Homo sapiens: one gene and its partners. The protein of the gene in region 2 purifies or fractionates together with the protein of the main gene of each other region. This does not show direct contact. Each region holds a gene or a part of one and is shown on either strand. Other genes may lie near its edges.

Region 1 (3,500 bases), about 190 Mb from region 2:
CATCTACTTTGGAGGCTGAGGCAGGAGAATTGGTTGAACCCAGGGGACGGAGGTTGCACTGAGCCAAAATCGCACCACTTCACTCCAGCCTGGGTGAAAGAGTGAAACTCCATCTCAAAAAAAAAAAAGAGAAGACGAAAAGAAAAAGAAAAGAAAAAGTTTAAAATTTCAATGAAAGCCAGTTTATCTGTTTGGTTTTGTTTTTACATATCATGGTTTGGGTGTTTTCTTAGAGAAATTTTATAGTTTTAGCCCTTATAGTTACTATGATCCATTTTAGTTTTAGCTCTTATAGTTACTATGATCCATTTTGATTTAGTTCATATTTATTTGTATCATGGAAAGATCTCAGAAAGCATGCTAAGTGATTAAAGCAAATTGCAAAGTGATATGAGCAGTACAATACCATTCATGCAAAATTTAAAAGCGTGAAATACCATCTATTATTCATAGCTATACATGCACATATAGGTTAAAAGTTTCACAGCAGAATTTTGATAGGGGTTGCCTCTGAAGGGAGGAGAGGAAAGAACTGGAACAGGAAAGAACTGGTGGACAAAAATATTGCAAATTTTTCTGCAATATTTTTAGGTTGAAATACATTTGACACAATATGAAGTTACCAATTTGGGGTGGTTAATTATGTTGTACTTTTTAGTTTTCTGTATTTTTTTTAACTTCTCAAAATACACATACACACACACACACACACACACACACACACACACACAAATGATTCAAAGTAAGAACCACAGAAAACAATCCATTTCTGTTGAGTTTGGTGGCCACACGGTTGAAGCACTGCGGTGGGGTGTCGTGCGTCCAGCCTGTCCACCTGTTCAGGGCCAATTCTGTTTGTATATGGGGTTTCTAGCTGAGAAAGCTAGAAGAAGGATAACTGTCTTCATTTGAATTCACTCTCACACTTTGGCTTCTATTTTTTCCAGTTTTGCTTCCACAGAAAACCCTAGTCCACCTTCCACACTCAGTTCCCGTTGTGCTGAAGAGCTACAGAGCCCACATCTCAGTGAGCGGCCCTTGATTAGTTTTCTCCTTTTATTTATTTTATCCCATTGCTCCAAACTTTCTCCACAACTATACCAGGGCCTCCCAAGGAAAGCTTGGTTTCTGTTTACCATGTGTCCTTTCTCACCTCGTCCCCGCGGGGTGGCCCCGGACAGCCTTGCTGTACATGTGCAGTGCATGTGGCATGACTGGCCCCATGGCCCCGCTTGCAGCCTGCAGCCGAGCTCCGCACATGCTCAGAGCATGCCCTGCAGGAAGTGGGGTCACAACCTGCAGAGTGCACACTGCCACCCTTGGAGTCAAGGGGTTGTTCCCATGCCTCCCACTGGCAAGCTGTGTGGCCTGACACAACGTCTCTTTCCATTCTTCTTCTTCTATAAAATGGACATAAAAATATATACCCTGGCTTGGTATGGTGGCTCACACCTGTAATCCTAGCACTTTGGGAGGCGAAGGCGAGCAGATTGCATGAGCTCAGGAGTTAAAGACCAACCTGGACAACGTGTTGAAACCCCGTATCTACTAAAAATACAAAAAATTAGCCCAGCGTGGTGGCGCACACCTGTAGTCCCAGCTACTCGGGAGGCTGAAGCAGGAGAATCTCTTGAACCTGGGAGGCGGAGGTTACAGTGAGCTGAGATCGTGCCACTGCACTCCACCTGGGCAACAAAGCAAGACTCTGTCTCCAAAAAAGATATATACGTATATAAATATATACATACACACACACACACACACACACACACGTATGTCCTTTCCACTCACAGGTTGCCGGCAGCAGCGGGGGGAGGGGTCCAAATGAGAACATGTACATGAATGTGTTTGCAAACAAAATGAAAGCTGTTTGCATGTTACTTCCTGCCCTGCAAGCCAAGCCCTTCTAGAGCCCTGGCCCAGTCACGCAGCTCACTCTGTCTCCACCACTCTGTGCCAGCCTCTTCTTTCCCTCCCATTCTTGGTCTTGTTCTTAGGATGTTCTCTCTCTCTGCCCTGCACGCCCCCTTCCTTTTTTCCTTTTCTTCCTCTCTCCAGTCTTGGAAGCAGCCTAACTCCTTCCTTTCAAGTATGATCTTGTACCACTGAACTGAGGCCCACTGGCTGGCTCTGGTTGATGGAGAAAAAGTACTTTCTTCCTTCCTCAAAGAGGTCAGGTACTTGAGATAACGTATTTTCTGTCTTTGAATCTCCAGGCTCAGGCCACAGGGTCACCACATACATCGCCCACCCATGGAGGCGGCCGGCCAATGCCCATGCCAGTGCGCTCCACGTCTGCCGGCTCCACCCCCACCCACTGTCCGCAGGACTCGCTGAGCGGAGTCGGGGGAGACGTGCAGGAGGCCTTCGCACAAGGTGAGTTTCTGGAGCAGAGTTCAGCGGGGAGCTGAAGGGATGTGCAAACACGGACAAGATTCCTGCTGAGGTTTTTTCCATTTCTGTTTTGTGCTCTTTGCTTGGAATGATCAGATTTTGACAGACAGTGTAAATAAGTCAGGTGCTGGCCCCTTCTCATGAGACGGGCTGGTCTCCAGCGGGAGGGCTGCAGGCTTCCTATGTGTGCCAAGAACAGGCCTCCTGGGGTTCTCTGCCCTTTTTTCTGGATTATTGGAAGTGCTTTGTCCTTTGGGCTTTGTCTCCTCCAGAGGAATTGGATGGAATAATTCCCTGGCCTAGAAGGGACTGTAACAGGCACTGTAACTGGGACCGTGCTGAAAGCACAGTATGCACGCCATTGTCACAGTCATCGGGGGAGCTGGTGACCAGCAGTATTAAGTAGTTGGGTGGGGATTCAGAGGGAAGTCCTGCTGGGGCTGGAGGTGAGAAGGGGAGGTGGTAGTGGTGGTTGTGGAGAGTACAGCCCCACCCCCACAAGGCTGAGGAAGACCTCGGTGGAATGCTTATTCTGGAACCCAGCTCTGGATTGTGTGGTGGCGGCAAAGCGTGGAGTTGACAGGATGCTGCTCCCTAGGTAGAGAGGGCAGAGGGAGAGGGACCAGTGGGCTGGTGCCTCCTGCCCCCGGTGTGCCTGGGAATGGGTGGAGCTGCTGTGGCCCCATCTCCCCTTAGGTGTTCCACACCTGTGTTCTCGGGCCTGGCAGAACTGAGGCATTTGCTCAGCCGTCTCTTCTCCACGCTCACCCACCCTGGCATCCCCATCTGCTCTGCCTCTCCTCAGGTACGAGGAGAAACCTCCGCAATGACCTGCTGGTGGCAGCTGACTCCATCACCAACACCATGTCATCCCTGGTGAAGGAGCTCCATTCAGGTGAAACCCAGAGCTCCCAGCCAGCTTCCTGGCCTCCCCTGCCTTGCCCGCGCCCTTCTCACTTCCTTGCCAGCACCGGCAGAACCTCACCACCCAGCTTGCACCACCCCATTTCATCACCTAACTTTGCCTTCTAGGAACACACTGGATGTCTCCACCCAGAGAGCCTCTGTCACACAGGATCGCGTAGGGGCGGTTTCACATTCAGGCC
Region 2 (3,500 bases):
ATTTAATGAATATTGGCAATTTCAGATGGTTCAACCAGATTCTATTATTATCCCCATTTTATGGACCAGGAGGCTGGCTCAGAGAGTTATTCATGCCTCTGGTCAGGAAGCTGGTGAAATGCCAGAGCTAGGCTTGGGACTGGAGCGATTTGCCCCCAGCACTTCCTGCTCAGTGTTGGGCTCCACTGCCCGGCCCTGAAGCTGAGTGTTGGTGAGGCTCTGCCCCAAAGCCTGGGGTAGAGGTCTTTCTGTCAGCTCCCCTTTTCCCCACCTCAGGGTGGTGAGAGGAGGTTTTAGGATGCAGGGCATGGGAGCTCTTAGCTTCTTTCTCTGGCAGAGTGGATGATACCCCTGCCTCCCGCTAATGTCTGTTGTCTGTTGTCTCCCCTCCGGCTCTGTCCCTTGCAGAGGTGGTGGGACACACGCAGGGGCCACTAGATGGGAGCCTGTATGCTAAGGTGAAGAAGAAAGACTCCCTGCACGGCAGCACCGGGGCTGTTAATGCCACACGTCCTACACTGTCGGCCACCCCCAACCACGTGGAACACACGCTTTCTGTGAGCAGCGACTCGGGCAACTCCACAGCCTCCACCAAGACCGACAAGACCGACGAGCCTGTCCCCGGGGCCTCCAGTGCCACTGCTGCCTTGAGTCCCCAGGAGAAGCGGGAGCTGGACCGCCTGCTGAGTGGCTTTGGCTTAGAGCGAGAGAAGCAAGGCGCCATGTACCACACCCAGCACCTCAGGTCCCGCCCAGCAGGGGGCTCGGCTGTGCCCTCCTCTGGACGCCACGTTGTCCCAGCCCAGGTTCATGTCAATGGTGGGGCGTTAGCATCTGAGCGGGAGACAGACATCCTGGACGATGAATTGCCAAACCAGGATGGTCACAGTGCGGGCAGCATGGGCACACTCTCTTCTCTGGACGGGGTCACCAACACCAGTGAGGGGGGCTACCCAGAGGCCCTGTCCCCACTGACCAACGGTCTGGACAAGTCCTACCCCATGGAGCCTATGGTCAATGGAGGAGGCTACCCCTACGAGTCTGCCAGCCGGGCGGGGCCTGCCCATGCTGGCCACACGGCCCCCATGCGGCCCTCCTACTCTGCACAGGAGGGTTTAGCTGGCTACCAGAGGGAGGGGCCCCACCCAGCCTGGCCACAGCCAGTGACCACCTCCCACTATGCCCATGACCCCAGCGGTATGTTCCGCTCTCAATCCTTTTCGGAAGCTGAACCCCAGCTGCCCCCAGCTCCGGTCCGAGGGGGAAGCAGCCGGGAGGCTGTGCAAAGGGGACTGAATTCGTGGCAGCAGCAGCAGCAGCAGCAGCAGCAGCCTCGCCCACCTCCACGCCAGCAGGAAAGAGCCCACTTGGAGAGTCTTGTAGCCAGCAGGCCCAGCCCTCAGCCATTGGCAGAGACCCCCATCCCCAGTCTCCCTGAGTTCCCGCGAGCAGCCTCCCAGCAGGAGATTGAACAGTCCATCGAAACACTCAATATGCTGATGCTGGACCTGGAGCCAGCCTCCGCTGCTGCCCCACTACACAAGTCCCAGAGTGTCCCCGGGGCCTGGCCAGGGGCTTCTCCACTCTCCTCCCAGCCCCTCTCTGGATCCTCCCGTCAGTCCCATCCACTGACCCAGTCCAGATCTGGCTATATCCCCAGTGGGCATTCGTTGGGAACCCCTGAGCCAGCCCCACGGGCCTCTCTGGAGTCTGTCCCTCCTGGCAGGTCTTACTCACCTTATGACTATCAGCCATGTTTGGCTGGGCCTAACCAGGATTTCCATTCAAAGAGCCCAGCCTCTTCCTCCTTGCCTGCCTTCCTTCCGACCACCCACAGCCCTCCAGGGCCTCAGCAACCCCCAGCCTCTCTCCCTGGCCTCACTGCTCAGCCTCTGCTCTCACCAAAGGAAGCGACTTCAGACCCCTCCCGGACTCCAGAGGAGGAGCCATTGAATTTAGAAGGGCTGGTGGCCCACAGGGTAGCAGGTAAGAGGTATTCAGTCCTGACTCCTTCTACCCCTTCCTTATTTGGTCTTGCTGGGGGGAGGTGCAGGTCCAGCCATGACCCCTAAGCAGATGTTGCTTTCACTGGTGGGAGGAGGCTCTCAGGAGCCTATATGCTAGCCAGTTATCCCTTCCTGCATTCATTGTCTGATAGGCACCAAGCCAGACACCAAGTTTCAAAGTTCAATGTCAAGCAATTCCTGCCCTCAAGAAATTTACAGTCTAGTGAGCGGACAGATACACAGACAGATGATTTCATTAGAGAGTAATGTGTACGGTGACAGAGGTGGGACCAAGATCCCAGAGCCTGGGAAAGCAAAGCTTACCACCTAGGGCAGTCAGGGAAAGCTTCCAGGAGGTGGTGACTTTGGGGTTGGAGTACAGACTTTCTAGACACAGAGGAGACTCTGCAATTGCCTGTCGTGCTGTCTGTCCTCAGACTTTAGTTCCTTGGGGGAGACGTGGAGAAGGCTGGAGGGAGGCCTTTGTAGACTCAAATTCCCTCTTAGGTCCCGCTCCTAGAGGCCATGAAAGAGTCCGAGAGGGTATCCTCAAGCCCTTAGGCTCTATCTGCTGGGGCGGGGAGGCCAAGGTTCCCCTTCTAAGTCAGTTTTCCTGTTAGTCTTTGCTGAGGACCAGCCCTGTATGGGAAGTAGGTGCTGAGAGACAAAGCTCCTTTTCCTATCAGAGAGTGGGCTTCTCTTTTGGGAGAGAGGAAAGTGGGACACTCAGAAGAGCTTTTGGGGAGACAAAGGCAAGAAATGACAGCATGTCTGGGGCCATGTTGGGAGAGACAGCTGCGAGGTTCCCTTCCCACTGGTCTAAGCCTATGCCCATTCCACAAGGGTGGCTGAACTTGGCAGGAAAACCTGTTGGGTGACTTTATTCTGGAGGTGGAGCCCAGACAGGGGTGGACCAGAGACTGTGGATTTGGGTGGACCTTGTGCCAGCCCCTCAGCTGACAGGGTGGTGGGAGCTCAGCGAGGAGGAGAGGAGCCTGGGCAGCTGTCTCTGTCCTCCACCCCTTTTCCTAAATTTAGGGGAAGCTGAGTCACCATGCCAGCTGCAGGGAGGGAAGGAAACACCCTCCCTGGAGATGGACCGTGGGTTTAGGGAAGCAGCTTGGGGCAGGCCAGCTGGCTCAGGACCTGGTGTGGGGACACAGGCTCCCTGCTCCTATACTTCAGAGCAGAGCAGAGTCCCCAGCTCCACTATTGGTATAATAGCTTGAAATTGGCCATTGCAGGAGTATTTACACCATGGAAATTGGCAATCAGCCTCACCTCCCATAGAGAGCTGGCCTAGCAGTAACAATTCCTTTTACCTGAGCATCGGAACAAAGGATGGGCAGTTCTTAACCTCGGATGAAACGCTCCATGGGTGGTCCATATGGGCTTTGACTTCTGCCTTCTCCCACATCTGGGCCCCTGAGATAAAGATACCCCCCTGGCTTTGTCAGCAGAGATCCTTTTCTTCTTGGTTTTTTTGAGGTGAGA
Region 3 (3,500 bases), on a different chromosome or scaffold from region 2:
TAGGATGATGGTGAGCAGCAAATCATTTCTGCTAGAATTCCTGCTTTTCTCTGTGTTAGAGGGTTGGTACTTTGAGACTATAGTAATAGTATTAGTAATAATTAAAATTTAAAAATCAACAGTAATACACACTAACAGTTATTGAGTCCTTATTCTGTGCCAGCCCTTTTCTGAGTGCTTTAAATATATGAACTTATATAATCCTCAAAGAACTATTGCTATTATTTCCATTACACTGTTGAGGAGCTTGAGAAACAGAAAGGATATTAACTTGCTGGCTACTAAGTACCAGAGTTGGGATTTGAAACTAGGCAGTGTGACTCCAGGAAGTCTGACTTCTCATCAGAAGTCATAGACATGGTGAAGATGCTTTCTGGGTAAGAGCAGTGTCTGAGTTGGGAGGGCCCTAAGAAGTCATCTAGTACAATGCCCTCCTTTAACAGATCAGAAAACTAAGGCCCTGAGAAGTTATCCAAATGCTAAAGGTTCCCACCTCTCTAACAGACAGGGCTATGATGAGAATGGCATTCTTTCCATTTTACTGCACTTTGATTTATTTTATTTATTTATTTTTGAGATGGAGTCTCACTCTTGTTTCTCGGGCTGGAGTGTGGTGGCACGATCTTGGCTCACTGCAACCTCCACCTCCTGGGTTCAAGCAATTGTCCTGCCTCAGCCTCCTGAGTAGCTTGGATTACAGGCACCCACCACCACAGCCGGCTAATTTTTGTACTTTTAATAGAGATGGGGTTTTGCCATGTTGGCCAGGCTGGTCTCGAACTCCGGACCTCAGGTGATCCGCCCACCTTGGCCTCCCAAAGTGCTGGGATTACAGGCGTGAACCACCACGCCTGGCCCTGGACTTTGATTTCTAATTGTGTGAAGGTCTAAGTAGGAACATGGGGTGAAAAGACAGTAATGGAAAGAATATCTCTTTTTGCTCTTAATAAATATTTTATTTAATCCCTACCTGCCCTTTAGGTGGATATAATTATATACTGTTTTTTTTTTTTTTGTTTTTTGTCTTTTTTTTTTGAGGAGGAGAGCTAGTAAGTGGTAGAACCCTTCTTTAGGCCCAGGATTCTCTAATCCCAAAGTCCATGACCTTTCACTTTACACCTCTGGGTTTGTTTATATGATGCCAGTCCTACCACTGAGTCTTCCTGAGGGGAAAGAAACTGTACAGACCAAACCTTCTCTTAGAAATTTTATTGCTGAAAGAGATCTTAGAGATTATTTTTCTAATCTTCCCTTTTTATAAATGCTGAAGGAGGAGATGTGTTGTCAAAGGATAATTAGGGAAACAAGTAAGTCAAGTGAGAGACATCTTTCACCACCTGCTGCTGCATTTCTAGTGCAGGTGAAGGAGGGGCAGTGCTCTGCCTGTGGCTGCTGCCGACAGCTCTGGCTGCTGCCCTCTCGCCATCAGGCATGCTGGAGGCAGAGCTGTTATAAATAGGCTCAGTCTCACTGTCCATGATTATCTCTTTGGCATCTTGCTTTTTTTCTGATGGAGAGTATAATCTATGGAGGGAAACTGGGTACTTTGCTGTATTTGGTACCATGAATATATGGACAAATGTTATGAAACCATATCAGTAAATAGCCTCTTTAAAAAAACCCCACAAAACTCCACTAAGTTGCTGTCTAAAAACATGTATATTTTCTCTCTAAAGGGAAAATAAAAAACCTTAACATAAATGGTATGAGACCAATATAACTGATTTTTATGTTTTAATTCTGTTTAAATTCTCAAATTTAATTCTCTTAAATTAATAAAATAAATTTAATTCTCTGAGAAGATCCCCATTGTAAATTCCATACCTTACTATTATCTGTATTCTTTCCTAGCTTAAATACAAGTTTCTGTCTACCTAGGATGGAGTGATCACCTGACACAACTTGGGCCAAGAGCAGGAGGGGAAGCAAGGACTCTCCTATGGCATCTTGACTTTCCCAAACTTTGATATTTTCATGGATGATGTTAAAATGGGTCACACATAAGGATTAATTAAAATAACATTTGTGAAAGGACTTTGAAGTGTTAAACAAATGTAAGGTATCCTTATTATCACATTCATTGTGACCATAATCATGATCATTACCGCTTGTTGCCTCTTGGCCCAAGTTGTCTGTGTGACATATTTCATGGACTGTAGTGTTTTACAGGGTTGAAATGGCATGATGCATCGTAGAAAGCTGAGAGAGAAAGACTGCACACATGAGCATGTGTTCATCACATAGTCAAGGAACTCCAAACAGGATGGCTGAAGTGAAAGGTTGTTAGGGGGTTCAGGGGGTGAGATAGACTGTTAGAGAAGTATATAAAGACAGGCCATAGAGGATTTTGTGCTATACTACATAGACGTTTGGGCTTGATTCTCTATAGATGGCGAGGAACTATTAGAGGGAGGTGGCAGTATCAGATGGTTTACATTTTAGATTATACAGACCCTCTGGTAGAGGATGTTTGGGTCAGTAAGGTGCTGTTGGGGACTTTAAACAAAATGTAGGGAGACCAGTTAGGTGACTAGGAGAGTCTTTGCTGAATTAACAAAGGAAAAATGGATGTCTTCCCCAGTGCTTCTCACACCCCACATCTTCCACACCATCCTTCCCCCTGGGCTCAGCACATTTCATATTTGGGTGTAACTTATCTTCCAGGACTTTGCCTAGGCATTTTCTCAGATGCAAATCTTTTACCTGGAGGCTGGTTCATTTTTCCTGCCAGTTGCTAGAGGATGATGCTCTTTCTGCCTTAGTATTCACTGATCTCATAGCAATGTCATTGTATTAATTACTCTAGGAATGGTGCTTTGCATGGATATTGAAGGCTTTTGAGCAATGTATCCTTCTGGGTTAGTGGCGAATATAGATATCATTGGTGGCTGTATTTCCCCTCAGCTTGGGAAAAGGAAATGCTAGTGTTTTCCTGGGCACTGTTAGAAATTACAGCCCATTTTGGTCAGGTGGGAATATTGACTCACATGGATGGATAGATGTCCTTTTTGTTCTCAGATGAATATTGAAGCTCTTCGGGAGAATCTTTATTTTCAGTCCAAAGAGAACCTTTCTGTGACATTGGAAGTCATCTTGGAGCGTATGGAGGACTTTACTGATTCTGCCTACACCAGCCATGAGCACAGAGAACGCATCTTGGAACTGTCAACTCAGGCGAGAATGGAACTGCAGCAGTTAATTTCTGTGTGGATTCAAGCTGTAAGAACTTTTTTTAAAATCAAAGTAAATCTTATATAATGGCTTTCCCATAAAGTTTTGCAAGATATGGAAGTTACATAATCACCAGGAGTATGAATTTGTTCCAGAATGGGACAGGATATCTCATCCCTTCTTTCCCTCCTAGTTGGCCAAAATATCCTTCCCATCTAGCACTTACAATACTTGACATTTATTTCCAGGCCTGTTGACTCTCATTCTAGCCAGTCTCAATTATATGCCTCTGTCACTATCACTAGTTCACACTGTTGTCCCTACTCTTC

The links. The genes of interacting proteins can lie anywhere in the genome.
Region 1: the proteins of TNS1 (region 2) and DTNB purify together in Homo sapiens (affinity purification with mass spectrometry; one large-scale study listed by BioGRID and IntAct). This does not show direct contact.
Region 3: the proteins of TNS1 (region 2) and CTNNAL1 purify together in Homo sapiens (affinity purification with mass spectrometry; one large-scale study listed by BioGRID and IntAct). This does not show direct contact.

What each region holds. Positions count from the first base shown.
Region 1 is NC_000002.12:25,387,078-25,390,577, reverse strand, and holds part of DTNB (dystrobrevin beta), read left to right. Parts: intron 1-2,216; coding exon 2,217-2,376; intron 2,377-3,199; coding exon 3,200-3,289; intron 3,290-3,426; coding exon of another isoform or gene 3,427-3,479; exon of another isoform or gene 3,480-3,500.
Region 2 is NC_000002.12:217,845,996-217,849,495, reverse strand, and holds part of TNS1 (tensin-1), read left to right. Parts: intron 1-408; coding exon 409-1,986; intron 1,987-3,500.
Region 3 is NC_000009.12:108,979,000-108,982,499, reverse strand, and holds part of CTNNAL1 (alpha-catulin), read left to right. Parts: intron 1-3,018; coding exon 3,019-3,219; intron 3,220-3,500. UniProt on the Homo sapiens protein: May modulate the Rho pathway signaling by providing a scaffold for the Lbc Rho guanine nucleotide exchange factor (ARHGEF1).